5 separate regions of the Homo sapiens genome follow, and regions 1, 3, 4 and 5 are each linked to region 2. Evidence: fine-mapped QTL for protein levels in blood plasma. A gene starts in region 2. Each other region holds a variant in brackets. All regions are shown on one strand. Distances are between the middles of the regions. Region 1 overlaps LOC105376313 (a long non-coding RNA gene). Region 2 holds the start of FCN1 (ficolin 1). Region 3 has its middle 51 kb from the start of OLFM1. Region 4 has its middle 48 kb from the start of FCN1. Region 5 has its middle 40 kb from the start of FCN1.

Evidence for each region. PIP is the posterior inclusion probability: the model's chance that the variant is causal. The UK Biobank Pharma Proteomics Project read protein levels with antibody pairs (Olink). The fine-mapping took linkage between variants from a reference panel, not from the people measured, so its PIPs are less certain.
Region 1: its variant is fine-mapped to the plasma level of the FCN1 protein (UK Biobank, PIP 0.95).
Region 3: its variant is fine-mapped to the plasma level of the FCN1 protein (UK Biobank, PIP above 0.99).
Region 4: its variant is fine-mapped to the plasma level of the FCN1 protein (UK Biobank, PIP 0.99).
Region 5: its variant is fine-mapped to the plasma level of the FCN1 protein (UK Biobank, PIP above 0.99).

What each region holds. Positions count from the first base shown.
Region 1 is chr9:134,946,567-134,952,711 of GRCh38, reverse strand. LOC105376313 (a long non-coding RNA gene) reads right to left here. Exons shown (of 3, transcript XR_930421.3): 3 at 3,685-5,396. Among named protein-coding and RNA genes, the nearest start is that of FCN1, 32 kb to the right of the region's middle. The variant T/G (reference allele first, on the strand shown) is at 2,922.
Region 2 is chr9:134,916,502-134,922,441 of GRCh38, reverse strand. FCN1 (ficolin 1) reads left to right here and starts at 4,530. Exons shown (of 9, transcript NM_002003.5): 1 at 4,530-4,673. The coding sequence starts at 4,571.
Region 3 is chr9:135,033,250-135,039,394 of GRCh38, reverse strand. No RefSeq gene overlaps it. Among named protein-coding and RNA genes, the nearest start is that of OLFM1, 51 kb to the left of the region's middle. The variant C/T (reference allele first, on the strand shown) is at 3,223.
Region 4 is chr9:134,963,029-134,969,173 of GRCh38, reverse strand. No RefSeq gene overlaps it. Among named protein-coding and RNA genes, the nearest start is that of FCN1, 48 kb to the right of the region's middle. The variant C/A (reference allele first, on the strand shown) is at 3,574.
Region 5 is chr9:134,954,886-134,961,030 of GRCh38, reverse strand. No RefSeq gene overlaps it. Among named protein-coding and RNA genes, the nearest start is that of FCN1, 40 kb to the right of the region's middle. The variant G/A (reference allele first, on the strand shown) is at 3,646.

The DNA of each region.
Region 1 (6,145 bases), 30 kb before region 2:
ATGCAATAATTAAAAGACAGAGAACTCAATTTTTTAAAAAGGGGCAAAAGACTTGAATAGACATTTCTCCAAAGAAGATACACAACTGGCCAATAAGCACATGAAAAGATGCTCAGCTGCATTAGCCATCAGGGAAATGCAAATCAAAATCACAGTAAGATACCACTTCACATCCATTAGCATGGCTGTAGTCATGAAGACAGATAATAACAAGTGTTGGCAAGGATGTAGAGAAATTGGAACTTTCATATGCTGCTGGTGGGATGTAAAATCATGCAGTTGATTTGAAAACAGCCTGGCAGTTCATCAAAAGATTAATTATTCAGTTACCATATGACCCAGCAATTGCACCCCTAGGTATATGCTCACAAAAACTGGAAACATGTTCACATAAAAACTTGTACATGAATTTCATAGCAGCATTAGATCTTAACAGCCAAAAAGTAGAAACAACCCAAATGTCTACCAACTGACAAGTAATACCATGGAATAGTATTCAGCAACCATGGAGTATTATGCAGCAACAAAAAAGGATGAAGTACAATTGTGTGCTGCAACATGGAAGAGGCTTGAACACATTCTGCCAAGTGGAGAAGCCAGTCACTAAGAGCATCCGTTGTCTGATTCCATTTATACAAAATGTCCAGAATCAGCAAATTCATAGAGACAGACAGGAGATTGGTGCTGGCCTGGGGTCAGGTAAGACCTAGAGGAGGTGAGGGATCGGGGAATGACTGCTAATTAATACAGGCCTTCTTTGGGAAGGGACAATGAAAATGTTCTCACATTAGACTGTGCTGATGGTTGCACAGCTCGTGGAGACAGTTACTAAAAAGCATTGAGTTGTGTATTTTAAATGGGGAAATTCGATAGTAGGCAGATTACAGCTCAACAAAGCTGTTAAAACCATCACAATAACCAAGAAAGATTCTGTACCTACCCATGGTCCAGATCTCAACTGACCCGTGGCATACACGCATGAGCGTGCTGAGCAAAGCAAGCTGCGTCTGCAGGCGAGGACTTGCAGGGCATGAGCTGAGGCCAACCCCAGAGCACCGGCGGGGCTGGGGGGTGCGGCACAGATTTGCCCTCCACAAGGTGCACTCTCGTCCTTTTCTGTTTGAGATACAATTTAACACAATATGATGCACAGATCTTAATTTAGTAAATTTTAACAATTGTAGGCACCCACGTAACTACCACCCTAAAACTCCAAATTATGGCATATTGCCATCACCCTAGAAAGTTCCCTGGAGCACACAACCAGCCAGAGTTTTGGGAAGTCAGGAGTGAGAGAAAGGAGGCGGACTCCCAAGTGGGGCCATGACTGCAGCCTATAGGATGGGTTTGCAGAGGGTGAGACAGAGATCAGTTAGCAAAAGGGACCTTTGTCCTCCCTGAAAGCTGATGGAAACTGAAGGAAAGAAACCCTTCTGCTGAAGGAAATGCAGCAGGGCCCACATTCCCAAAGCCCCTGGGATGATGATCTTTTGGTCATTCCTTGTCCTCGCTCTTGGGGAAAACGTCAGCTACCATTTCCGCCCTGAGTCTGCCAAGGGGAGAAGGAAGAGAGAGGAGAGCATTCCTGAATTCAGAGTGCGTTGACAACAGTTTCAGAAAGGTGGATGGATGGGCGTATCCTTCATGACCAGGGACCACGGATGGGTGGAGGTGATGCAGACCTTGCCAACTGCCTCAGCCCGTCCTTGCCCAGTATGCACCCTTACACCCTGGCCATCAGCCAGCTCCACGCGCCCAGGGAGGCGGATGCCCCACACACAGCGTCTTGAGGGCACAGCCGGTGCATCTTCCAGGGCCATTTGGAGAAATAGGAGTTTTGTTGTTGCTGTTGTTTTCTAACACAGTTTGGTCTGGGGCCTCCAAAAGGCCAGCTATAGACACTATAAATTGATGGGTTTCTAGGGAAACCTGTCAGAACAGAAGATGAGTTTCAGCCACTGTGGCAGTGACGGGGCCAGAGGCAGAAATGGCCTAGAGGTACCATATGCTCTCGTAATGTACTTTGCTTCCTGCTATTTATGAGCGGAGGACGCTCTGAGTGCATCGTTCTCAATCAAGGGCATGACCAGCAATCACTCTGTGTGACTCAGCTGCCAGTGGGCCATGGGGTTGACCCTGGAGAAACCTCAGGGGCCTGGGTAGGCCTCCAGCCAGAGTCGGAACCTGGCCTCAGTTCCTCCCGCCTGCACACCCCTCTACAAGTATGGCCTAAAGGTCACGAAATATTTAGCTCTTCCCCTTCGCCTCTAGGACAAGAAGGGAGCCAGAGATCCAAGGGATGAGAGCCCAGCTTCAGAAATCAGACAGACAGGTGTGGTCTTAGCTCTTCCGGCAGGATGTGACTTTCAGCTAGGTGCCCCAGGGGATCTGTCCCCACCCACATTGCAGTGGAGAGGTGGCACTCTACTCCAGAGGCGGGGCTCAGATGCTGGACCAAATTGAGGACCAGCTATAACAGGGATGGGGTGGAAGCACCTTTCCATAAGACACGCCCACCAGTGTGAGTTGACCGCTGCCATGGCAACACCTGGGCGTTACCTCCTCTTTCCATGGCAATAACCCCAGGATCTAGAAATTTCTGCATAAACCACCCCTTAATCTGCTTGTAATTAAAAGTAGATATAGATGTGACTGCACAACTGCTCTGAGCTGCTCCTCTCAGCGCACTGCCTGTGGGGTAGTCCTGCTCTGTAGGGACAGTCACGGAGCTGCAACACTGCCTCGTCAATAAAGCCCCACCCCACCAGGGGCTTGCCCTTGAAGTCTCTCCTGGGTGAAGTAAAGAATCCTTGGGGGCCCAGCCCCACTTTGGGGCTCCCTGCTCTGCATCAGCGTGATGGGCCTAATGGTTGACTCAAGGTAGGGAGTACCCAAGTCAATGCATGCTGGGGACTCGGCAG[T/G]GGGGCTGCCCTGAGCGGAGGAGGAATATCCTGACAGACTGGCTGTCATTCAGGGGGGAGTGGGGTTGTGGTTGGCGCAGGAGCCCAGCTGAGGACAGGCATGAGTCAGGGTGGCAGTGGATGCTGTCATGTTCTGGGACCCCAGGCAGGGCACAGTGTAGCTGTGCCACGAGGTACACAGGAAAGGACGAGAGGCCTCCAAAACGTTCACAGTTGTTATTTCTGGGCAGTTCTTCATGTTCTTTAAATTTTCTGCATTTCTCCAAACTCTTTACCCAGCACACAGGGCCTTTACAATCAGAAATCTAAGAGAGTCACTGCGCTCAAAGCCACGCTGGGGCATGGCACCACGGACATGGCACACTGTTCGGCCTGTCATATGCCTCACATACGAGCTCACGTTTCTCGAGGTTTGCCCACCCACCCAGCCCCGTTCTGGGCTCTTGCTCAGGCTACGGCATTGATCTCATTACCCCCCAGTAGGCGAGGAAGGGGCACAGGTTGGGAAAGTTGTGCCAGGTCATATGGTTGGTAACTTGTGCAGGGAAGCCTCTCACCTGAACTGTGTTTCTCCTCTACTCTCACACCTCAATAATCATCAACACAGGAGAAGACTTCTGTGATGCTCCCCCGCCAAGGCTGCCCCTACACACACCAGCCGCAAGTCTGGGCCCCTGGAACTTCTGACTGGCCGCCTTCAGGTTGGCATTCCCATGACCCCCTCTTTCCAATTCTATTAATTTGCTGGAGCAGCTCGCAGAGCTCAGGCAAACACATTTATAGATTAATGAAAAAGAATATTGCAGATGAAGAGATGCGTAGACCGAAGTGGGAGGAAGGGACGCAGAGCTCCCACATCCTTGCTGGGCGCGCCACACTCCAGGAACCGCACTGAACCGAGTCCTCTTGGGATTTTATGGAAGCTTCATGATGTCAGCATTCCTTCCCCCATGGCATAGGATGGGACCCTCTCATGGGAGGGTCTTAAGACCCACAATCCGAAAGGCAGGAGAAAGTTAGGGTGCCGCCTTGGGGCAGGTGAAAGGAGGGCAGGAGAAGGCAGAGGCTGCCCATGAGGCTCAACACCCCCAACATTCTAACGCAAATGGGAACAAGTGCTATGGGAGTTATAAGCCAGGAGCCGCAGACGAAAACCCGTATCTATCCTAACAGCACATAACTATACAAAATCTATTTCCTGGCCACATAGTCACTTTTTAACGTAACCTTGGTTAACAGCATGGTGTTCAGTGTTTACAGAACACCTGGGCCTGGAGTGAGTGTGCCGGTCAGGTTCACATAGATATAAAGGATATGAAGGGAACCCCGGACACTGCTCCAAAAAGCAGACCCAGGGATGCCTGTGGGTGGCCGGTGATGGGCCCCTCTCACCCCTGGGGAGCTGGGCTGGTTGCAACCTGTCCGCCGGCACTGCCAGGCCAGGGTCACGGCTGAGGATACCCAGGGCAGGTGCAGAGGTGAGGAGGTCCCAGGTGAGCACCCTGGGAGTGGGGTGAGCTCTGCCGCGGCTTTCCTGGGGAGGGCTGTGGGAGGCGCAGGTGTGTCAGCAACGACCTGAGGCTGTGCTGTGGCCCCATGGCTTGCTGTCCATGGCCTTCATCTGCCTCTCGCCTCCTCTGGAAATGAGAGTGACTGTCCCGGCCACCCTGACCCCGCTGACCGAGAGCCCAGACGAAGGGGTAGTGGAGGGGGACCTGCTTTTCTGTCCAGAAGGATTTGGTTTGAGCCTTAGTTTCTCATGCAGCTGCAGGTGACAAGGGCCGGCAGCTGTGCCTGGCAGGGCAGGGCCCTTCTATCCAATTCTGAGCTGAATCTTCCAAGCCAATGATCTCACAGACGTGGTGTCAGTGTTACAACAGCCCGCGAGGCTGCCGAGCCACTGAGAAACTAGGGTCACCTGCAAGTGAGCAGGTGGGCAGCACCAGGCAGTGTGGGGGCAAGGATGCCTGCAGGGGCACCTCCTGCAGGGATGAGCCTTCTAGCACATTCTAAGGGAACCAACGCCCTCTGCCCTGCTGGTGCTGTCCCCAGAGACTTTGATAGCTGGGTTTTGGGTGGGTCTTGGCTTCTCAATGTAAGAGGCCAGTGCGGGGTCCTGACGTGCAGCTGGGCTGGGGCGGTGTTCAGAGCACCGGGCTCCTGTCCTCTCTCCTCACCCGTCATGCAGGGACCTCCAGCCTTCCTTCCCCAGGCTGCTGGGGTGGGGAGGGGTGTGGAAGCTAGAGTCTGTGCAGCAAACATGGGTGGTCGACACTGCTGTCTGTCAGGCGGAGCAGCCCTAGAGCGGCACAGCCGGTCCGCTCCCCCGCATCCTTGGAGACAGATGGCCAGAGCCTCTGCTGGGTGGGGGAGAATTCCGCACCCTCCTGGCTGGAGGCGAGGCCGTGGGCCGCCGGCTCTGGGAGCTCCAGGCTCTGCCTCCCACACCCGCTGCTCTGGACACGCAGCATCGCTCTGCGGGGAGAGAATGGTGGCGGGCCTGGCTGGCTCTCCCTGGCCCCCCAGGGACCTAGTGGGAACAAGCACTGCAGGACCAGGAGAGAAAGTGGGTGAGGAAGCGGGGGGGGGGGTGTGGGGGTGAGCGAGTGTGAGTGTGCAAGCAGGTGTACCCGGCTATGCATGAGCACAGTGGCTGTGTGCAGGGGTGTGCCTGTGTCTGTGTGTGTGTCTGGTGTGAATGTGTCTTTGCCTGTGTCTGTGTGAATGTGTCTTTGTGTGTGTGTCTGGGGTGAATGTATCTGTGTCTGTCTGAAGTGAATGGTCTGTGTGTGTATCTGGTGTAAATGTATCTTTGTGTGTGTCTGGTGTGAATGTGTCTGTGTGTGTTACTGGTGTGAATGTGTGTGTGTCTGGTGTGAATGGTCTGTGTGTGTCTGGTGTGAATGTGTGTGTGTCTGGTGTGAATGGTCTCTGTCTAAAGTGAATGGTCTGTGTGTGTGTATCTGGTGTAAATGTCTCTTTGTGTGTGTCTGGTGTGAATGTGTCTGTGTGTCTGGTGTGAATGTGTGTGTGTCTGGTGTGAATAGTCTGTATGTCTGGTGTGAATGGTCTGTGTGTGTCTGGTGTGAATGTGTGTGTGTCTGGTGTGAATGGTCTTTGTGTGTGTCTGGTGTGAATGTGTATGTGTCTGGTGTGAATGGTTTGTGTCTGTGTCTGGTGTGAATGTGTCTTTGTGTGTGTGTGCCTGATGTGAATGTATCTGT
Region 2 (5,940 bases):
TAGTTTATTTAAGCTTGCTCTTTTAAGTGAAATTTAACACCCATTCACCAGAGTGCATAAACTAAACCTGCATCACCCAATGAAGCCAAAACCCATCTCCAGCCCCCCGTGCCCCTTCCAGGCCTAAGGGCTCCCCCTCCTAAGGGAGCGGTCGTCTCACTGGCCCCTGCTAAGGGAGCGGTCATCTCACTGGCATGGTCTGGGCCTTTTTCTCCACGTTGCCACCGAGCATGCATTCCTTCACACTGCTGTTCAGTTTTGCCCACTTTCAAACTCTGTACAGATGCAAATGAACAGTTCGCATGCCTTAGTGCTGGCGCCCTGGATGCTCCGTGTGCTTGCGGATTTCAACAAAGCTTTTGCGTGAAGCTGGAATCCGATCATTTTATGGGTCTACAGGATGCTCCAGTATGAACGAACCTCAGCTGACGGCCCCATTCTGCTGCGGATGGACGTTTGGGTTGTTTCCGGCGTGGGGCTGGACATTTTCACACGTGTCTTCTTTCCAGCTGGGCACACCTCTCTGTTGAGTAGAACTGAGCTGAACATCGCTGGTTATGGAATATGCTGGTCGTAGGGAATTGTTGGGAATACTGCCAGTTTTCCGAAGTGCTTGTACCAAGGTTTCTGACACTTCTTCACCAAAACCTTGCAGAGTTGGCTGTTTAGAAAAATTTTAGTGTCTGCAGTCATCTCATGAGATTTAAGTTTTCATTTCTTGGATTAGTTATGAAGTTGAGCATGTTTTCATACTTCCATCATCTATTAAATATTATCTTTTATAAGCGTTTGTTGAAGTCACTTTCCCACTTTCTACAACATCGTTGATTTACAGAAACCCTTTATTCTGGATACAAGCCTTTTGTCACTTCTGTGTGTTGAAACCTCTCTTCCCTCACCCTGGCTCGTCTTTTCCCTCCCACGGTGGTGTATTTTGAAAAAGAAATAATACTATTTTCATGATCAATTTTTCCACTTGTCCTTTATGGTTTGTGGTTTTCCATCTTATTTAAAATAACTGCAAGGCTATTGGAGATCTTATAATATGATCTAAAACTGCTGTTTTCCCTCTCACATTTGGGTCTACCCTTCTCCTGATGTGGATTTTTTTTTCATCTGATAAAAGTCAAGTGTAACTTCTTGTTTTTCCATATGACTCTCCAGTAGTTTGTGCCACTCATTGAAAGTTTATTCTTTCACTATTGCTCTTTAGAGCCACCATGTCATAAATCTAGGGTCCGTATGTGCCTGGATTTGCTTCTGCACTCCCTACTCACTTCCCTAGGTTTGCTGTGTACGCCTAAGCCAGCCCCACACTGTCTCCATCACTATCGCTTGATAATGACTGCTGGTGTCACTTCAAGCAACTCACCCTTGTTTTTTCTTGCTCAAGAATAGCATGGCTATCAGCCTCTTGCCTTTATATAAATTTTATTTATTTATTTATTTATTTGTTTATTTATTTAGACAGAGTTTCACTCTGTTGCCCAGGCTGGAGTGCAGTGGTGCAATCTCGGCTCACTGCAACCTCCACCTCCCGGGTTCAAGCAATTCTCCCACCTCAGCCTCCTGAGTAGCTGGGACTACAGGCATGTACCACCACACCCTGCTAAATATATATATTATATATTTTTTGAGATGGAATCTCACTCTGTCGTCCAGGCTGGAGTACAGTGGCTCGATCTTGGCTCACTGCAACCTCCGCCTCCTGGGTTCAAGCAATTCTCCTGTCTCAGCCTCCTAAGTAGCTGGGTTTACAGGTGCCCACCATCATGCCTAGCTAATTTTTGTATTTTTAGTAGAGACAGGGTTTTACCATGTTGGCCAGGCTGGTCTTGAATTCCTGACCTCAAGTAATCTACCTGTCTCAGCCTCCTAAAGTGATGGGATTACAGGTGTGAGCCACTGCACCCGGCCCTTTATATAAATTTTAAATTCACCATGTCAATTGTCACAGAAAATGGTAGTTTAATTGATAATACAGTGGATATTTAGATAAATTAAGAGAAGATGAATGTTTTTCCTATATTTGGTATTCTAATCCACACATATAGAATATCCTTCTAATTATTTTAATCTTCTTTTAGGTCTTTCTGTTCCTATTTGATAGTTTTGTACACAGAAGACCAGCATGGATGTTGTTAGACTTATTCACAGTTATTTGAATTTGGTGTTGCTGATGCAAATTTTTTAAATTTCATTTTTAAATTCTTTGAGGCTAGTTTTTAGAAGCACAATTGATTTTTGCTAAACTTTTTATTCTGCTAGTTTATCTGTAGAAACTCTAGAATTTTCTACATCCTCAATCATGTCTTCTGAAAATAACAACTTTGTGTCTGCCTTTCCAATCTTTTTATGGTTTTGTTCTCTTGCCTACTGCACTGGACAGTGACATGCAATACAATGTTGACCACAGTGGTGATGACAAGCATCCTTATTTGTTCTCAGTCTCTGAGGATGGTTTTCCATTTTTCCTGTTAATTATGTTGTAACTTCTGTATCCACAGCTTCCAAAGACCTCTTTCTATATTCTGTTGTTTCTGTTGGTCCTTATACACATTGTCTTTTATTCCCATGAGCCTGGTTATCGTTGATTGTGTTTTAACATTTCATTTGAAAAAAATAAAACACTTTGCAGAAATAATGACCTGGGATGATGTCATTCTCCTTCAGAGAAGATTTTTGTTTCTTTCAGCAAGGAGCCTGGGGGCATGAGCAATAATTCCAGGAGTTGAGATTCCTTTCCTGGGACACTTAGATGTCTCAAAACCAGTTTGCAGCCCTTGTGAATGTTGGTTGTTGCTCACTCATCCTATTGCTAGGGTGCAGCCCTTCTGAAAGCCAACCCCAAACCCATACCTTTGGCAGGCCGTAGGCCCCAGTCTTTGACCTTCAGCTCTGCAAGATGGTGAAATCACTGCCCAACTTCTCACCTCTCTTTTGGAGATTGGCAAATCCCTGTGCAAAAAGAGGTCCCCACTACTAGTTTCACTTCTCTAAGATTTCTGTGGCTCCTGAGAGCTTGGCAAAGTAATCCTTTACTACATAGCTAGCTTGACGGTGCCTTCGAGCAAATCTCTTTTTAAAGGTTTTGTCTGTTTGTCCTTAATAGGATGCCCCCAAATACCTAAACTGCCATTGCCAGGAATCAAATGACTTTTGTTGATCCAATGTTAAGATATTTTAACTTGCCAGAATCTTGCATTCTTTCATACTCTTGGGAACATTGACTTGATATCTGAAGGTGGTGTTGACTTCTCACCTGAAATAAACCTATTGATGTTGCAAGGAAGAGGAGGTCCCCTCACACCCAGGGGGCAGCTGGCAAATGGAATTGAGGGGCACAGACCTGCTGGCTTTCTCCCTGTTCTGACCCAATCCCAGGTGAGTGCTGCTCCTGAATTGGATCCTCTCCAAGAAAGGAGGCCGCACCACTGACACCCAGACCTCTCCCGCCTGGGCCAGTAGCTCAGGGACACTAAGCGGTGTCTGAGGCAATGAAGCCTCCTGCCGTTGTCTCTCAACAGGCTGGAGCCAACACACACAAACACACACAGTCGAGAGTCGTTGTGGTGCCCAGAGAGCCTGGACACAAGGTCCTGTGTCTCCTGGATCCCCCACCCCTGGGCCGCCCCTCCACTTCTCTCCCACCTGGGGAGCCCTTGAGTTTGGAAACCCAGTCTACACACGCTGGCTCAGAGAAGTTGCAAACCACAAAACAACACCTCTCCCTGCTCCTTAGTCCTGCTACCATCTGACTCTCGTTAGTGACTATTTCTATACGTTCTAAAAATCCCGCACAAAGTGTCCACAGCGTGGCCTGGCTAAGCATGATTCACAGCACGAGATGCGGAGTAGGAACATGGCCTCAGGGATTTGGGGGAACAAGAGGCATCCCCACCTTCAGGTGAAATGAGCAATCCCAGTGATCTACAAGGCGTTAGACAGAATTGAGTCCAATGCCTGGCTCTTACTAGTGGAGTGACTTCAATTTCTCCAGCTGTAACTTTCAAATAATTTACTCCACCGAATGGGGCTGGTGCAAGATGATATGATGGAAATAGTATTTGGGACATAACAAGTGCTCAACATTTTTTTCCTCTCCATCCATGATAAGTGCCTGATGACGGACAAACCCTGAATTTTCTGGGAACAGATGAGGCAAGGAAGCGTCTTCAGCAAAACCTTCCTTATCCCCCAAGGTTAAGGTCAAGGTTTCCGAGTATTGCTTGGGGACAGCTGGGGAATGGAAAGGGGGTGTGGGGGCTGTGTTCTCCTTAAGCCACAAGCAAAGCCGATGCTTTCCAGCAGAGGAGTCTCAGGAGCTCTCTGGACTGGGAGCAGGGTGTCTTTGCTGGGGGAAGAGAGCCCAATGGGGTGGGCATCTTGCTGGAGCCTAGTGGAAGGAAACATCCTTTGAGATGACCTCATACCTCCTGTTGGTGCAACTAAGCAGCCCATAGGAAGTGGGTGTCCCCCAGGGAGTTGAGAAACTGTGGCACAAGGCGAGAGCTGGTTTCCTCTGCCCTGTTAGAGCTGGGGGACTCTTCAGAGTCAAAGGCCAGAGAGCATGGAGCTGAGTGGAGCCACCATGGCCCGGGGGCTCGCTGTCCTGCTAGTCTTGTTCCTGCATATCAAGAACCTGCCTGCCCAGGCTGCGGACACATGTCCAGGTGAGACAGACCTGGGTTTTCTGGTCCCTAAAAGCTGGTAACAACCCCACTCACTGACACTCGGGTGTCCCAGGCAAAACCTTTTATGCACATCTTCCTGTGAAGATGCCCAACAGATCTGTTTTATCCTCAGGCAAGGACATGGAGGCTCAGGGCAGCTGAGGCATTGCCCAGGGTCATGGAGGGATAGGGGAGGGATGTCACCAGGTCTGTCTGCCTCGAAAGCCCAGGATTTGCCCATTGGAGCTTCATAGGTGGGTCTGGAATCTGTCACTGAGAAGGAAGAAAATACTGTTGACTTTATCTTCTTACGGGCTTACCAGGGAGGCACTCTAAGACCCTCTAATACGGTGGCTGCCACACGGACTTGGGGGGTTTGTTAAAAAGGCAGATTTCTGGCTCTCCTCCAAGAGAGTCGGAATCAGTTGATAGGGACAAGGGTTTGAACGGTGGTAAGGTGTTTCCCTCACTGATTCAGGAGCAGGTGGTTCTGTGACGCTCAGCAAGAGACTGCTCCTAAGGACGGCCTGGTGCCCCTGGCTGATAACATATTTATGAAGGAAACATAAATAGTAAATTACAGCCTGCTCTAGTGGAAGGAGGACTGGAAACACAGAAAGGAAATACCCCAAAAATGGCAGTGCCATGTCTCCGGTGAGAGCACTGCTCCGTTCCATGGTCTCTAAGAGCGCCCTTAGCAGGGCGTGTAGATTTTGTAATGAACAAAATGAAAAATATTTTTTCAAAGAAGTAAACAACTTTGGTTTGGCTGCAGCTGTGCCACACCTGGCTCTGTGTCCTTGGACCCCACACTGCCCCTCTCCAGAGGACCTAGAAAGCCCCTTCCAGCCCAGTAATTCTACAACCACATTCCCAAGGTCTGGGAGGGAAAATGCTTTGTCAGCCCCAATTCCCCAAGTTTCTTAGAAATATTGATTGTCATTAGTTATTGAAAGTGCCCGCTGTTTATTAAGCTCTTTCTAAATGCCATAAATTACAATAAGAGATTTAAAATGCACATTCTTTAACCAAATCCTGGCCGCAACCTTGTTATTATCCCCGCTTGGCAGCCCAGGGCACAAAGCTCAGAGGAGTTAAGTTACTTGCTGCAGGACACACAGCACTGAGGAGATGGGGCTCCCCTAGGTCGGGGTGGCCTCCAAAGCCAGAGCTCTGCCCCCCATCACATCTCCGCCTCACCAGTGCCTGAGGGGTGAGGACAGACCAAGGCCCCAGCAGAGCAGAAAACCTCACTTCCCAGCCACTG
Region 3 (6,145 bases), 120 kb before region 2:
TCTTTTGCCCAGGGGGCCCCAGAGCAGAGTGAAAATGTGGGGCCTCTGAAGACCTACCTTAGTCCGTTTGTGCTGCTACCAAGGAATAGTGAGGCTGGGTAATTCATCAAAGAAAAGAGGTTTACTGGACTCACAGTTCTGCAGGCTGTACAAGAAGCATGGTACCAGCATCTGCTTTGGGTAGAGGCCCCAGGAAGCCTCCACTCATGGTGAGAGGGGAAGGGGAGCAAGCGTGTTGCATGGCAGGGGAGGGAGCAAGAGAGAGGGAAGGGAGGTGTCAGGCTCTTTTAAACTGTCAGTTCTCCTGGGAATTCCTAGAGCAAGAACTCACCCATTACCTGGAGGGCAACACCAAGCCATTCACGAGGGACTCCCCGCACCCAGGACCCAAGCACCTCCCACCAGGCCCCACCTCCAACACTGAGGGTCAGATTTCAATCTGAGGCTTGGCAGGGCCAAACAAACCACAGAAAACTCTGTCCCAAGAAAGCCCCAAACATGACAATCTATCCATGCTGTCCTCAAGGAGCCCTGGGTGATCTCCATCCAATACAAAGAGCAGAGGCTGGAAACTGTGATGGTTCTCCCCGGAGCTCTCCTGGGAATAGTGGGTGTTTATAACATTGAGAAAATGATGCATTTCTTTTTCTGATAATGGAGTCCTGGGATAAGAATTGCTACATAAAGAAAAAGAAAAGCCACTAAGACCTGACTTCACTCTACCTGCCAGGCTTTGCTAGGAACGAAGATGGGCCCAGCTGAGGGCCACGTGCATGTCCTGTTTCCCTACTTGTGTACTTCCCAGGGGTTGCAGCCACGAGTTCACTGAGCTGTTTCTGGAGAGAGCCTGGGTGGGATCCTCCCAGCCCAGCCCCTGAGAACGTGGTGAAGCCGGTGCCCCTGCAAAGGCCGTGTGAGAAGGATCGGAGCCAGAAACATCGGAGGGACACAGTGTCCGTGGATTAGATCAGAGAGATGGATTAGATGTAGAGGAATATGGGGATCACGACCTGTGGGTCCGCGTCGGAGTCTGACTTCAGTTTGTAGGAACTGAAAATTGCTTCATAAGGGAGTAATAAAGATTTTTTTAAAAAACAACATTTTCAAAAGGACACAGCTTGAAGATGCTCCCACTAGTCAATGATGTGACAATTTGGGCATAAAAATAACAACTGTAATAGATTGAAACACATCAAATGTGCTGAAAATTCATGAGCTCATCACTAAGCTAAAGAAAGCCACACTGGTCCCCTGGGGTGGGCGCGGGGGCACCAACTCATCCTTCCGGAAACTGATAAATGCGAGGAAAAGCCAAGCACCCCTCTCCTTCCCCACAGGGACCGAGCCTTCGGGGGAAGCTTCTTTACACAAGTCCTCCAGCTCAGAAGCTCAGAGTGGAACCATGACAGCCGCCCTCCTTTGCAAACCACTGAGAGCTCCAGGAGGAAGGCTGCTGGGGTTTTATAACGACTGAGCGAGGGTGATGCCATCTCCCCCCATACAGAAAGGCAACAGGATGTCACATGCACCTCCCGAGGCAGTACAGTGGGAAGCGCCCACTCCACCCATGAAGGGCTCCTGCCTAAAAATCACGCCCCGCTCTCATCATGCCTCTAGGTCTAAGCACCTTACAGGAGGTCCAGGGGACAGAGAGACATTCAGACAGGAGATCCAGGGGACAGAGAGACGTTCAGATGACAGCACGGGTGCAGCCAGCCAGCTCCAGACTGCAGGACGCGCGAAGGGCAGATGACTCCATTCCTTCAACAACAACAAACGTCAAGAAAGAGAACTGGGGGAGGCTGTTGTCCTGGCCTCCTAGGGCAGCCAAAACAGATACCAGACTGGGCAGCTGAAACGGCAGACATTGCTTTCTTACAGTCTGTAGGCCGGGAAGTCCTGGATCTAGGTGCGCCTGGAGCAGTGCCTGGTACAGAGTCGGTTCTCAATAAGCATTATCCACAGTGGTCCAAGCACTGGCCATGTGGCTCTCTGTGTGGGTGGGGCTCTTCTGACCACCCTGCCCGTCTATCCCCTCTGCCTTCTGTGCCTGCTGGCTGCAGGCTGGTGCCATCTATGTAGTATAGCCTGGGGTATGATGGAACCCGTGAGGTTTGTGTTAATGGACCTGTGGTCTGAATTTAGATGAGCATCTCGGAATCCTGAGAGCTGGCCCTGCTCCCAGACCACCAGACTTCTTCTCCACTCCCAACTAGAATCCCCTCCTCAGCAGCCTGCCCCGCCCCCAGAGTCAGAGACCTTCCCTAGATGGGGGCGCAGCACCGCTCAGCCCTGAGGATTCATACTAGGATCAATCCAGACATGATGGGGGTTCCTTTGTGTGAGGCTGCAGCCAACCATCAGGGCTGCCAACGTCAGACTGGTCATCCCCAGAAAGGTGTGGGGGTACATAAGGAGCCTGGGCACTCTAGGCATGCAGCAAAGGGATCCAAGTGTACTGTGTGCACACACGTGTATATGTGTGTGCATGCACACCTGTGTGTGTGTGCACATGCCTGCACTGCATGAGTGTGCACGTGCATGTGTGTGCCTGTGCGCACGTGTCTGTGTGTGCATCTCCAGCCCTGCAATCCTTGCCTCCTCATTGTGCAGACACAAGGAGGTCAGCTCCCACATTGGGAATCAGCTTTGAGATTCTTCTGGTCCTTCTTGCACCATCTTTTCCTATGAAGGTCAGTTGGACAGATGTCTCAGCGATGCGTAGTACATGAGACAGCTGTGCCAAGCTCTTAGCCACAGCAGGTTTCCTTGTCCCACCCTCCTCCAGACACTCACGCTGGGTGTGTTTCAGCAGAGGTTTTGGCCACCTGGGGTGCGGGCCCCGAATGCTCGTTTCTGGAAGTTGCCCACCCCACACAAAGAGAATGGGGACAAGCGTATGTGGCGTTGCGGTATGACCTGCTCTAGAGACAGGTAGCATCCCTGTCTTCCCTCACAATGGTATCTTCCTCCACCTACACATAAACCTGCCTGGAGCAGGGCAGGTGGGGTACTAAGGCTGATTAATCCCAGGTACTGCAGGGTAGCAGGTTAATATACTCCAGGCAGATGGAAGCAAACTGGTTTGCAAATCAAGGTCAACTAATTCATTTATTGATCCAAGAGCTGCCTTTTACTTTCCCTTTTATCAAAGAGTCTTCTCTTCCTTTGTCCTAGAAAGTTAGCCCAGGGCCTCTCGGGAGGCCCAAACGGTGGATCCCA[C/T]TCTGCTGACTCTCCTGCCCCCTGCCCCTGGTGTTTGCTTCCCTGGCCTCTGGCCCTGGTGTCCTTGTCATTGTCTGGCTTAGGTTGCTCAAAGCCCTAAGGTGAGTTTGCTCATCTTTTCTGCAACGTGGAGCTCCTGCTTCCCTTGCACCTCCCTTCCCAGGGCTCCTTCCTGAAGTATCCTCCCTGGACCATGCTGCCCAGGCCCCATGGCGGTCACATCATATGGCCTGGGCCCACCTGGAGGAGCCACCAGCCACTTTCCACAGTGACCTCCAGCTAGTCCTATATACACGCAGGTGTTCACTCACTCACTCATTTATTCATGGGTGTTCTCATCTGACAAGACAGCACTGAGGGCCTCTTTTGCAAGAAATGAAGGATCTTCACTTGGCCAGAAGCTGAGCCCTGGAGTGGCTGAGGGAACTGGCTTGGGGCATACCGGCCACTCCTGTGTGGGACAGAACACTCAGCCCCTCTGTCCTGATGGTTTTCATCTTTAAATGGGGTTAATAGCAAAATAAAAAGTTATTATTTTCCCATTTTAGGGAATAAAAGAGTCAATAAGATAATGTACAAAATGCAGACAGAGATATTAGGATAGCCAAAGGAAAAGATAAAGCGGAAAATAAATGTTGGCAAAGATGCGAAGAAACTGGAACCTTTGGGCACTGCTGATGGGAGTATAAGATGGCAGCTGCTCAAATAATTAAAAATAGTTGCCATGTGATTTGGCAATTCTGCTTTTTTTTTTTTTTGAGATGGAGTTTCACTCTTGTCGCCCAGGCTGGAGTACAATGGTGCAATCTCAGCTCACTGCCACCTCCACCTCCTGGGTTCAGACAATTCTCCTGCCTCAGCCTCCCAAGTAGCTAGGATTACAGGCACCCGCCACCATGCCTGGCTACTCTTTGTATTTTTAGTAGAGACGGGGTTTTGTCATGTTGGCCAGGCTGGTCTCGAACTCCTGACCTCAGGTGATCTGCCTGCCTCAGCCTCCAAAGTGCTGGGATGACAGGCGTGAGTCACCGCACCTGGCTGGCAATCCTGCTTTTGAGCGTATACCCAAGATGATTGAAAGCAGGATGACAGGCGTGAGCCACCACACCCGGCTGGTAATCCTGCTTTTGAGCGTATACCAGAGAGGATTGAAAGCGGGTCCCAAAGAGATATTTGTACATGCACATTTCTAGCAGCAGGACCCACAGCAGCCAAAGGTAGAAGCAACCCCAGCGTCCATCAGTGCGCGACGGATAAACAGAATGTGGTCCATCCCTACAATGGACCGTGGGCCTTGGAAGGGAAGGGAATTCTGATGCATACACTTCGACGCGAACAGACTGTGAAGACACCATGGTAAACCAATCCAGACACAAAAGGACAAATACTGCGCGACTCCCATTCTGCGAGGTGCCCAGAGTAGGCAGATTCACAGACACAGAAAGTAGAGAAGTGGGTGCCAGGGGCTGGGGAGAGGGGAATGGGGTCTTGTGTTTGATGGGACAGAGTGTTGGTTCGGAAAGATGAAGACGTTCTGGAGGTGGGTGGTGGTGATGGCTGCACAGCGATGTGAGTGTGTTTGGTGCCACGGAGCTGTACACTTAAAATGGCGAAGATGGTAGATTTATGTCATGTGCATTTTATCACAATTTTACAAAAAGCCAACATAGAGCCCAAGGGAGGGCAGGTGCTCAGTAAGCGACCGTCTTTTGAGATTCTGAGTGGTTCTTGCCAGAAGAGGACACGGGGCTTGTGCCCCAGGGATCTTCCACGAGACATGCAGTGTGGAAATTCAGGTGCAGCGGAGAGGAGAGGCAGGGGACGGGGTGGTGGGTGGGATCAGTGGAGAGAGTGATGGGGTGGCGGGTGGGATCAGTGGAGAGGGCGATCGGGTGGTGGGTGGGGTCAGCGGAGAGGAGAGGCAGGGGATGGGGTGGCGGGTGGGATCAGTGGAGAGGAGAGGCAGGGGACGGAGTGGCGGCTGGGATCAGCGGAGAGGGGGACGGGGTGGTGGGTGGGGTCAGCAGAGGGGAGAGGCAGGGGACAGGGTGGCGGGTGGGGTCAGCGGAAAGGGCAATGGGGTGGTGGGTGGGGTCAGTGGAGGGGAGAGGCAGGGGATGGGGTGGCGGGTGGGGTCAGCGGAGAGGGGGATGGGGTAGTGGGTGGGGTCAGTGGAGAAGGGGACGAAGTGGCGGGTGGGGTCAGCGGAGAGGACAGGCAGGGGACAGGGTGGCTGGGGGTGTCAGCAAAGAGGAGAGGCAGGGGATGGTGTGGTGGGTGGGGTCAGGTACTTCTCTGGGTGACAGTGGAAAGCTCCCTCCCTCCTGGGCCTTGGTTTTCTCAATCTGCAAATGGGGATAATGAGGGTGGCCACCTAGTATGTGCTGAGATTCAGTGAGTCCATGGGACACAGCCTCACTCTCGGCCACTATGGGGGTGGAAACAGGAGGAAGGAGTATATTCATGCTGGGCAGGCCAGGTAAGGCTGCCGGGGAGAGCAGGGGTGTGCATATGTGGGCAGGGGGGCCTTCCCGGCCGCGGGAGAAGCACCTTATGCTGTTCTGCCAAGACCACTTCGAAAAATAAATTCCTGTTTACTGCCACCTTCATTTCACACACTTCATATGGGCCAAATAAAGATGCTAATGCGTTAACAACCCAATTCCCAAGTAGCCTATCCTTTTTTACAAGGACCTTGTTCCTTTATGGCTCAGATTTGTCCCCAAGACATGACACACGCTGCTCTCACCTTCTCATTAATTCACCCCGCGAGCCGGCCCATCTCCAGAGCTCATGGACCACTGGACAAAAGGCCCGAGGCAGGGCAGAGCGGTGGGTGCTTTTAGGGTCTGGGGCTCTTCTGCTGCCGCTGAGCCTGTGCCATGGGGGCTGTTCTGGGCAGGGCGGGGCCAGGGCACCTGGG
Region 4 (6,145 bases), 47 kb before region 2:
TGTATACGCCCAGAAGAGTGATGCTGGGGCTTCTCTGTGCTCCGTCCAGGTAGTATTTGTCAGCCGCTGCGGCTTACCAAGCATTTCCAGGTCCACATTTCACACCCCAGCTGCAGTCCCCCATCTCCTCTTCCATGTGCAGAAACAGGGTCTGGCCAGGCAAGCTGAGGTCACAGACGGTCAGCAAAGGAGATGGGACCTGAGCCTTTTCCCTCGATAGAACTTTCTGGCCCCTGCAGATGATTGGATCTTGCAGAGATGAGGCCCTAGGGCTGCCCTCAGGAAGTGTCTTTGTCCTGGCTCCTGGATATGCCTAAAGTCTATGCTGCCGGACCCAGGGACTGTTTTTGGAACCGAGCAACTTGCCTTCTGGTGCTGGAGCTGCCTTGGCAACCTTGCGATGTGGTGGGGTGAGCTCGGGTCGGGAGACTCACACAGAGGGTGGACTTCCCCTCTGCTGCTCCTCGGCTGTGTGACCTTGAGCAGCTCACTGCGCCTCTCTGAGCCATGCTGGGAGATGTCAGTGAGACACTGAGACCTGGACATTGGACACCCAGTCCCCTTCCTGGCGTAGAGATGGGCTGCTGAAATGCTCCGGTCCCTCCACCTTCCTAGACAGGGTCAGGAAATGCTGCACTGTCCTGGCCAGACACATTCCAGGTCCTGGTTGTCCCTAGGGTGGCAGCATTTAAACTGCACCCAAGGGACCAGAGTTCCCTCTGGTTCGCTGGAGGCATCACTGGCCGCAGCCCACCTGGACTCGTCTTCATTTCCTTTCATTACATGAAGCCTGTGTTGGATTTGCTGCAATTGACAAGTGAAAGAGAATAGGTGCTCAGCCCACTTTCAGCGCCATTGGGTGGGCGGAATTTGCAGCAATTAATTCCAGGGAAGCAGCTTCAGGACAGGGCCCCAAGGGCTCTGCGCAAGGCCAGGCAGCTGCTCCGGAGCTGGGATGGAGGATGGTCCCTCCTGCCACGGGAACAGTCAGGCCGCCCACATCCTGCTGAAATCTTGAAATCTGAGCTCTGTTCTACCCCCATAGTCACTGAGTGCTTGTCCATTAAGTAGCACACAATTGCTTTTTGGAAGCAGACCTCGAGGTGGAATAAGATAGCATGTATATGATAGAGGATTGTCCCAATTATATCTCTTCTTCTTCTTCTTCTTTTTTTTTTTTTTTAAGGAAAGGGGACTAGAATGTAGCACTATGGAAAATTAAAATCTTGAGAAAGCAGCATTAGAATAAAATGAGTCTGCTTATGGGCAGCCCTTCCTCCCCCTGATTAATCAGACAGGAGGCTGCTGTGAGCAGGCTGGTTCTGCTGAGGCTGCGCTCTGGGGCTGCAGTGAGAGAGTCCCATGTCCACGCGGGCAGACGCAGCCGCAGATGCCCGAGGAGCCTGGCCTCCTCAGCTGCCCGTTTCCTGCTCTGAGCTGACAGCAACTGCCCACGCCCAGGCCACTGCCTGCTGCTACTGCCTACTGCAGACGCAGACGCACTCCCTCTAAACTGAAGAAGTTCTTTCTCAGGGTTCCTTCTCATGGTCTGAGAAGGCAGCAGTAATAGCGCAGATAGGGGGTCACCTCGGGGAGCCTTATTCTCTCCACCAGGACGAGCTGAGGGTGCACAGGAAGGTCGACTGCCCCTTGGGGGGCAAGTGGCACAGGCACTGCTGAGGGGCACCCGGACGTATCTCCTAAAGCTGAGGACACACGAAGCCCACAGATCAATTGTGAAGCATGAATGTGAAACTGCATGTCTACAGCGGCCTGCGAAGGCACCCCTGTCCGGCGATCCCACGCGGGGCGCTGCCGTGGGACATTCTCCCTCTTTTCATCCGTGCAGCGGCTCTGAGGGGGGCATGGGGCTTGTCCCTGGGTCACCGTTGAGGGACTTGAGGGATGTGGATGGCCCAGTGCCCCCAAGGAGGCTGCGTAATTGGGCAGCATAGCTAGAGGCTTTTCTCAGGATGGCTGCTCTCAGCGTGAGTTGCAAACCCCTTGGGCAACCCCTCTTGCCCCAGTCTGGGCTGGGAGGCACTGGGGGACTCATTTATTGCTTTCACATCAGGTAAGCCCAGCTGCAAAGCTGTTCCCGAGACCAGAACTGCATGTGGCATCTGCAGAGCCCAGAGTCCACCAGCAGCCTTGAAGCACAGAGGAGGGAACTGGCCCGAACATTCAAGAAAGGAGGGCCCAGGGCCACCAGAGGGTAGCAACCAGCCCAGACTTCTGGTGCCACTGCCCACCAATCCCGGCAAGGCCATTGTCCCCCGCCAGGGCTGTGGCTGCTAAATGCAGGGCAGGCATGGGTGAGCTGCAGGCTCCAGGTGGCTGGGATCCCCCTCCTCCTCCTCTCTCCATCCCCCAGAACAAGGTCACAGACTGGACCGTGCTGGCCACCATGGCACACAGGGCCTTCAGGCATCACCCGTGAGTTCCCTTTGTCATGGGAGAAATGGGGGCTTGGAAAAGTGGTTCTTAAATAGGCAGCGGCCTCAGGCTATTAGACACCTGCTCGGCCCACAGGCGCATCAAGACCAACTCCCTAGCGGCCTTTTCAGGACGACCTTGATATCAGCAGGCAGGAGTTCCAGCGAAGGGGAGGACACGCCCACCTGGCTCTGTTAGGCTTGCTGTCTCACCCTCGGTGCATTGGCACCTGGTCTTCTTACCAAGCAACAAACCCATTTTTACCCTCTTTGACTCCAGGCAAACAACCCTGCGTCCAGACAGTTAGGAGGCGAGAAAGGCAAGGGCGGCTCCACCCTGGCATCTCAGCTACCTCCCTAGAGGCTGCGTCAGGAACTGGTCACCATGAGTCTTCCTGCTCATTGTGGAGCCTTTCAAGTTATCAGTGAGAGTCCTTGGATCAGCTCGATTACTTTAGAAACTTTATTTCCCCAGTTTTAAAAGCCATGCGTGTTCATCGTGGAAGGCTGCACAGTAAAGAGAAGCCTGCAGGCCTTCCTTCTTGGCGCATTTGCTGAGAATTTGCTAAGGGCTCTGCTGTGCCCCATGCTGGAGATGCCTGTCCCTGTGGGTTTGGGCCTTGGAGAGGCAATAGTTACAATGACTCACCAAGGCATGTGTCCTTGCAAAGGGATGGCTGAAGGGCTGGGCACGACAGGGAGGCAGGCCTGGTAGCACCAGATCCAGGGGTTTCTCAGATTCTGCTCTGAGTGGACACAGAGGGCAAGCATGGGGGAAGGCTGTGGCTGGCCAGCGTCACCGCCCATCACCTCACAAAGATGGTGTGTTTGTCATCTGCTACCATGCAGCAAATTAACCCAAAACATAGAAGTTTCAACAAGAAACATCTCTTATCTCAGGGTCTGTGGGTCAGGAATTGGGGTGCTTCTGCCCCAGGGTCTCTCATGAAGTTGCAGTCAAGTTGTTGGCCAGGGCAGTATTCATCAGAACGCTCAACTGGGGTGGGAGGAGCTGCTTCCAAGCTGGTGCATTTGGCCATGGGCAGAGGGCTTCAGTCCACACCATGTGGGCCCCTGGTAGGGCTGTTCCTGGGTCTCTGCAATGTGACAACTGGCTTCCCCAAGAGCCAGTGATGCA[C/A]GAGAGAAAGCAGGAAGAGGCTGCAATGCCAGGCTTGACCAACTCTGAGGCCACACTGTAACCCATCCGGACACCAGGTCCAGCCCACGTTCAAGGGGAAATGAGTTGAACTCCACCTCTTGAAGTGAGGATTACCAAAGAAATGGTAGCCATATCTTAGAATTTCTGTGAAAATCTTTCCATATTTCTCTATGCTGGCTTATGCCTGCAGATATAAATATTTAATTTTTATAAATTGGATGATAGTATACAACCCATGTTGAATCCTGATCTTTTCATTTAAACATGTCAAGGAGAAGGTCTTGCATCTGGAAATGTGGATATGTGTCATTAGTTTTGATATTTTAGGCATTATATTTCAAATAACATGATGCCCTAATAAATGTTTCTTGAGTAAGTGAATAATGGACAAATGCCCGGTGACACCATTAAATGTCTTTAACCCCTCACCTACAGGGAGTTCCAGTTGGATTCAATGCTCAATTATTTTAGAATTTAGATAAATATTGCATGAGAGATGGCTGGTGTTCCAACCACGCTCTCTTCCCCCGGTGCACATGTTTCTCAGGCGGTCCTGTGTGTACTGGAGTCTGGTCAATGGGAGGTGAGAGGAAGTGCTGTGTTCTGCTTCTGGTCAGCCATAAAACCCCTCATGTGTGGTCCTCACGCTCTCTCCCTCTCTGTCTGCTGAACCAGAGAAGGGTGGTACCATGGAGCAGGCAGGACCTGGATCACAGCATCGCTCTGTGGGTTTCTATGTTGGGAGAAACTGCCGAGGTTTGGGGCTGTCTCTTACAGCAGTAAACACACCAGATCTTTGTGCCTTTGCCTAGGGATCTGAGACATTCTCCCAGGGAACTGGGGGCTGGTTCAAAGGACACATGTATCTTCAGCGTGGATACCTGCCATCAGACTGCCCTCCACACGTGGCCGTTTCTCCTCCCAAGGGCTCTGTGGCGTGGCCTCCAGCTCCTGCAGGCATTCCACAAGCAAAGCAAGAATGTGGACCCCAAAATGTGCTCCCCAGAGCTCAGGTCTTGATGCCACCCCCTCCTTTCCTGGACTGGAAACTGCCTAATATGGGCCAACTGGGTCATCTCAGCTCTCAGTTCTGAAGACATGACTGTCCAAGGAGCTACTCTGTAGTCCCAGAGCGGTGGGCACCCGGAGGCTGCACTGCACATGGGGCCAGGGCTAACTCCTCCCCATCTGGGGCACAGCCACACCCCGTCCTACTGCCCTGTTGCTCCATCCCTCCTCCTCCACTGGGCACTGGGCTCCTGGCAGGCAGCTTCTGTCTTGGCCCAGCTTAGCACACAGTAGGCACCGGAGACATGCACCATGTAAACGAATCAAAACAAGGATGAGTGAGTGAGAGCGTGGCTGACATGCATGTTAGGAGCTGAACCAAGCTGCCCCTCGCCCCAAATTCACATGTTGAAGTCCTCACCCCAGCAGCTTGGAGTCTGTGATCGTATTTGGAGGTAGGATTTTCAGAGAGGTAACTAAGTTAAAATGGGGCCATTAGGGTGGACCTTAATCCAATAGGACTGGTGTCCTTAGGAGAAGGGGTGGTAAAGACATGGACACCCACAGAGAGAGAAGATGGCACCCACAGGCCAGGGAGAGGGGTCTCAGAAGGAACCAGCCCTGCCAGCCCCTTGATCTCAGACTTCCAGCCTCCAGAACCGGGGACAATACATTTCTGGTGTTTAATCCTTCGTCAAACATAACATGCTTCATACAGCCGCTGAGCAGACTCGTATAGGGGGCTCGGTGGCTCGTGACTGGACTAGGGAGGTCTGAGGCCTCAAAGCCAGCAGAGGCCGGGGCCTCTGGGGGTTCCAGCAAGTTCCTGTGATGAGGGTCCGGACACCCGCCCACGACCTCGGCCCCACTCGCTGCTGCGTGGGCTGCCCCTGGCCGCGGTGCCAGCTTCCACCTGCGATCCCCATTTTGTCTCTCAAACCCTGCGGATCTGCCCTCATTAGCTGCTCCGAATCCCATTTTTAGTCCTTTTATTTCCACACCTCTGAAACGTCAGCATCTTTCACTTCATTGCCGGTATGGAGCCCTGGAAGGCCAATTATTCCCCATTTGGAACAAGTTCTCTTCAGCACGAAGAACTTCACATAAAAAGTTATTCATTTTATTTCAGGCAGCTTGGAGAGAAGTCATGCCCTGTGATGAGTTGGAGAGAAAAAAAGGCGCAAGCAACTGCAAGGTCCGTGTGTGTGAACGCCGCATGGATTTGCCTCCAAAGAACACGTGAGCGACCCGCGCTGCGAGCAGTGCCTGGCTCCCGGGGCCCCGCGTGCTGGAGCCGCTGCGGTCACGCCTGGTGCTGTGAGCAGTGCCTGGCTCCTGGGGCCTCGCGTGCTGGAGCCGCTGCCCTCACACCTGGAGTTAAAGACACTGGGGCTGAATTCGGGCTCAGCCACTGTCTGCATGACCAAGGGTAAGTTACTTAACCTCTCTTTGCCTTGGGTTCCCCATCTGTGCCTGTGGCTGAGACCATTTCCATCTCAGATGCATAAAGTGATGAGCACAGTGTCGAGCCCCACAGTCAGCC
Region 5 (6,145 bases), 38 kb before region 2:
CTCCTGGGTGGCTTGTTCCTGGCGTTGCCCGTGGGCTCGCTAGGAGAGCCATCACGTGAGCAACTGTCTGTGTCCCTTGTGGATGAGGGGTGCAAGCTGTGAGCTAGAGCCAGATGGGAGCAAAGGTCTGCAGTGCCCCCGTGGTGGGGGCCATGCCCAGGAACAGAGAGGCTAGGGCCTCCTTCCCGGCCCAGCCTCAGTCCTCTCCTCTTAGCGGTTTTGACAGAGTCCCAAGTGCACCTGCAAAGCAGACAGGCTGCCACAGTGCTGGGCGGAGAAAGGTCACCCTGCCCTTGCCTGTTCAGCATGGCTCTGCAGAAAGGGCCTAATGACTAATTAAAACCCTGCTGCCCGGGTTGGAATACTAATCTTTACAGCTTCATGGGCCTTCGTGATGCATCTCCCTGCAAACTCTGAAGAGCGAGGAGATGAGGCTGGAGGGGACGGTGTTGGTTTCCATCGGCTTCTTGTTTGTAGCCGGGGAGCGGCCCCTGTCTTCCACTTCTCAAAGTCGCTGTGAAGAAGTGAGAGTTGCTCCTTCCTGCTCTCTTTTTTCAGGGCCACAGGCAGAATGGAGCCTCCTGGAGGGTCAGGGCCTCTTTCTTCCAATTCGCTTCTCGCTTCTGCCCAAGGAAACCTCTTCAGCTGGAAGATCCCAGCTGGGACCTGGCTTGGAGGGAGATGCATTCCCTCTGAAAGGTCTGGCAGGTGGTGGGCTGTGCCCAGCTGTGCCGACCAGTGGCCCTGGGGTGGGAATGGCTTTGCCATCTGCCTTAAATTCGCCCACCTCTGGCCACCCAGCTGGCACTCAGGTCCCGCCCAAGCTAGCGTTGCGGGATGTACGTCCCTGGGGATCTAGAGAAGTGACTTTCACAGGCTACCTGTGTGTAGCGGAGTGGTGAACAGTGAAGTCTGAGACCCTCAAGGGTTGGCCTGGCTGAGAGCAAGAGGAGCTGACTGGCCTTCGACCCAGCAGGCCCCAGCATCTGAATGGGTCTCCTCCCTCAGCCCCATCCAGCTGAGCACAGAGCCCTGCACCTGCAGCCTTCATGCCGTCCTCCTCCTGCCTGCAGGGTGTGTCTGTGGCTTGCTTATTCCTGAGACCTCTTCCTTCAGGCCCATCCATGGGTCCTTGGAGAGCACCTTGCTGCCCCCATCGAAGGAGGCCCCTCCTGGCAGTGATGCTCTGGAGCCACCTCGCTTTGTTTTGTCCAGGGCCTTGGTTGCAATTTGAAATGGACCCACATAGTATGTGTTCAAGGGTGGGTTGTCCTGTCCCCTGGGGTGGCAGCCCCACCACGGCAGAGCCCCACGTGGCTTTTTCACAGTTTGAGAAGTCAGCCCCAGCGCGCATTTGCTTAATGAGTGGATGAAGGTGTGGATGGACAGATTCCTGCCACCTCTGTGGATACCAAAGAGGATGCTGGTGCCTCATAGGGGTTGGGGCTGTGGCCAGGACTGGCAGCCGCCACAACCAAGGTGGCGTGGGGCGCCTCCACCTGGAGCCAGGTCTTCCTCAGGGATGTCCCATCTGACACCCACCAGGGGAAAACCTTCCAGAGATGGTCTTGGGAGGATGGGCCAGAAGGACGGGGTGGCTGTGACTCAGACCCTCTACTGACCCAACTCCAAGACCCCCCAGGGCACCTGAGGCCAGGCCACACTCTACCCAGAGGCCCCAGGGCAGCACACAGGCTCCTGAAGTCCCACTACCTGGGCCCCGAGGCACCTGCCTTCTCTCCAGGATGATTATGAACCACATTGAAATGGTCAACAATGACCCAAAATGGTAGCAGGTTTCAGACGTTCAGATCCTTTGGGAATGAAGATTTGGGTCACCCCACCAAACAAGGAAGCACGACCCTCCGAGGGCCTTGCTAGGGCACAGGGACTATGGACAGTCACGAGGGAGGGTAGTTATGGGACAGCTATGGCCGCATGACCAGGTAGAGACATGAGGTGTAACAGTCACAAGTTCTTATTCCGTATTTAGCTGTGAATCTGTCAGTAGATGTGAACCACACTTCTCCTCCCTCTTCCATTTCTCTGCATCCAACATACGTTGCATTGATAGTAGTGACCTTCTCTCTCAGCAGGCTGGGCGGCCTCTAAGATGGGCCCATGACCCCTCCTCTCTGTATCTATGGCCCTGTGTAATCCCCTCCCCTGGAATGTGGGCTGGACATAGTACCTCAATCCAAAGAATGGACAGAATACAACAAAAGCGAAGGGTTATCACTTCCAAGATTAGAGGTTAAGTCACAAAAAGACCATGACTTCCATCTTGCATGCAGTATCTTGCTTTCTCTCTCTTTTGCAGCTCTTTTTCTGAAAGAAGCAGGCTGCCACATCATGAGTAGCCCCACAGAGTGGCCTGCATGGCAGAAAGCTGCTGACACAAACCAACAGCCATGCACGCAAGCGTGGAAGATGATACCATCCCAGTCCAGTCTTCAGATGAGATCACTGCCTTGGCTGGAAGCTTCACTGAGGCCTAGCGAGGAACTGTGAGCCACAGGCAGCCAGTTTAGCGATGCCCAGACTCTTGTCCACAGAAGAGGTGAGATCATGCACATTTATTGTTTTAGGCCTCTGGATTTTGGGGTGATTTTTTATAGAGCAATAGATAACAAATATACTTGGCGTTTAGGCCACAGGATATCAGAAAGGGTGTGAGACTTAGCTGTAGGAGGAAGAGATGTCACCCAGGGGTGGAGGAAGGGGTTTTGTATCCTCTTCTGGGCAGAGTGTGTTTTCAGTTGTTCAGAGGATCATGCTTCATGCTAGGCATAAGCAAGGATTTTGCTGTTGTCTTTATTCAGGCATTAAGTGTGTCTAAGTGAGTCATATATGGTGCCAGGTTGACAAGGGGCAGACCGTGGTGGGTTTCTATTGCATCAGCCCACCCAAGCAGAACTGTACTGCCCAGAATGCCCTTTCCTACATAGCCCCTGGTCAGTTTGGCCCCAAGAGGCATGGTGCAGAATTGGGAAGGCGGGAAGCAGTGGCCATGTTCTTTTTGTGCCCAGAAGGTTGGAGCTGTTGCAGCCCTGCATGCTGTCACCTGTGGGCAGGCACCTTGCCAGTGTGCAGCAGGGGACCCACAGCAGCCCTGTTCCTGCCATAGTCTTCCATGAGTTCTTTAACTCCCAGGACAGGTGTGACATTTAGCACCTGATGAAGGGCCCCATCTTCTCCTGTGGGATCCCAGAATTAAAGCTGGGGACAGCAACAGGGAGACTGCCTTGCAGAGGACATCCGACCCGGCAGTTTCCAGGGCGCTCCTGCTGCCCAACCTGACATGCAGCTCTCCTGCCCCACCACCTGCTCTTCTGACCCTAGGCTGCCACACCAGGCACAGAAGCAAGAGCCTTCTTTGACTTATCAAACATGGGCAAATCCTACAATAAATCCCTCAGCCACATTTCCTGGTGGTTCTGCCTCTCTGATCAAAGCCTAATACAAACCTAATCCCCTTATAGTGAAGCCTTGTTCCCCTGCTCCCAAAGGATAAGAAAGAAGCTCTTTGTGGTTTGCAGCAGTTGCCAGGAGAATAGCAGCAATGTCTGTAGCCAGCCAGACTTTCCAGTGAGGGGATCACACAGGGACACCCACGAAACTCACAGACATTGGCGGTGCCGTTTC[G/A]GAAGCAGAGACCAAGCCCCTGTGCCCAGAGGGTTCTGTGCCCCGAGGGCTGGGCTCGGTGGCTGGAGCACCCATGTGTGCACATGCACAAACACACACAGACACACACAGAAATACACACAGACACAAATGCACACAGACACACATGACACAGACACAAACACACAGAGAAATACAGACACAAATGCACACAAACATGACATAGACACAGACACACACAGTAATACACGCAGACATAAATGCACACAGACACACAGAAATACACACAGACACAAATGCACACAGACACAAATGCACACAGACACACATTCACACAGACACAAACACACACAGAAATACACACAGACACAAATGCACACAAACATGACACAGACACACACAGAAAGACACACAGACACACATGCACACAGACACACAGAAATACACACAAATACACACAGAGATACACACAGACACGCAGAAATACACATACAAACAGAGATACACATGCAGACACACACAGAAACACACACAGACACACATGCACACGGACACCGAAATACACACAGAGATACACACACAGATATACACAGACACATACAGAGAGATACACACACACAAAGAGATGCAGACACAGATACACACACAGACACATACACAGAAATAGACACAGACACACACAGGGACATAGACACACACATACACACACACATCGACACATACATATGCACACAAATACACAGAAACACATGCACACACATGAATACACATGGACATACATACCTAGAAACCCAGAGACACACGTGCACAGAGACACACACATACACACACACATCGACACATACATATGCACACAAATACACAGAAACACATGCACACACGTGAATACACATGGACATACATACCTAGAAACCCAGAGACACACGTGCACAGAGACACACACATACACACAACACACGTGAACAGATAAACACACAGCTAGAGACACACACAGATGGAAAGGCTACTGCAGCCCCATTTAAAATTTTTAACACCATGCCAGGAAAAATGGCACCTCCAGCTGCATCTTCTAGACTCTTTCTTGTTCATTCTCTGAAGTTGTTGGAGGGGAAAAGGAGCTCAGGAAGTATTATTCCACCTTGCCATGGACCAGTGGTGAGGGTGAGCCCCACCGTGGTGAAGGACTTCCCAGTGTGGTACAGTTTAAAAGGAGGTCCAAGTCGGGGGGCAGCGTGAAGACCACGTGCTGGAGGACATGCCTCCTGTAGGTGTGATGCCCCCGAAGTGGGCAGCCCCTCTCTTGCCAGTCTGGGCTGCCCTTTTACTGCCTCCTCACCTCCTGCCAGGGTGATGGCACAGATGTCCCTGGCCCAGGCCACAATCTCCTCCAGGTAGCTCCTTCCACAGCAAAGGCCAAGGGGAGGAGAGATGCTACCATGGCACAGAAGCACCCGGTAGCCCCTGGCTGACTGGCCAAGCTGGGACAAGCTGAGCCAGAGGGACAGGAGAGCCTGCCATTCTGCAATGTGGACTGCATCAGAGGAGGGGGCGCAGAGCTAGAGGTTTCCGGAGCCCTCCAGAGTGTAGATAGGAGTCACTGCAGGGCCCACAGCTGTCAGCTGAGCCCTGCCTTCCAAGAAAGTCTCACTTATCACTGCTCCAGGATCAAACTCATTCATAATTTGTGTGTGCACCTGCATTATTGATGCTCCATCTGAAAACCCTGTCCTGGATAGGGTATTATGAATCTAGAGACTGGTTAAAGACCAGACTGATGGAGAAAATACATATTTGTGCATTAATCATCACCTTCCTCTGACATGGTAGCTCCCACAGTGACAGAAACTTGGGTTTGGAGCCTCTATTGTCTGGCTGTAGCACCTGCCATGCCAGCCCCAGGCCCAAGGTCACATAGTGGGAGACAAGGGTGAGCATGGATTCTCCTTACTTCCTTACTCTGCCAGCTGCCTTCCCTCTGCTCTGAACTGCGGGACCTGAACTCAGACTCCAGGGCACTCTAAGCCATGGCTGCATGGTGGGGTCCCTGGTAATGCAAGTCTTCTGGACACACTCACTCAGCTGGGGAGAAGTTTGCCAAGTTCTGGCTCAGATGACTAGGAGAGATGGCTTGGCCTCCTCAAGCCCAGGCCCTGGCAGGGCAACCAAATGCATCTCCCTGAACCCACCAGGCTTAGGTGCCAGAGGACAGGATTTCTATGTCTTCTTCATTGTTTTTCCCCAGTGCCAAGTGCATAATAGGAGCTCAATAAATATTTATTGAATAAATAATCTTTGCATGAATTGTTATAAAATCTCTGCCAGAGTCAGTGCTACTCGCAGACTGTGTTTCTCTCTCCTGACACTTGGTGGTTGTTAAATCAGAAATCGTCCCCTATCTTCATCCATCCAGCCGTCCACCCAATGGCACACTTCTAAACGATTTGTGACAGCTACAGGTACAAACATAGGTGACATCTGAATACATTTTTGGGCATTTGCATAGGGGTTGTTCACTCCTAAG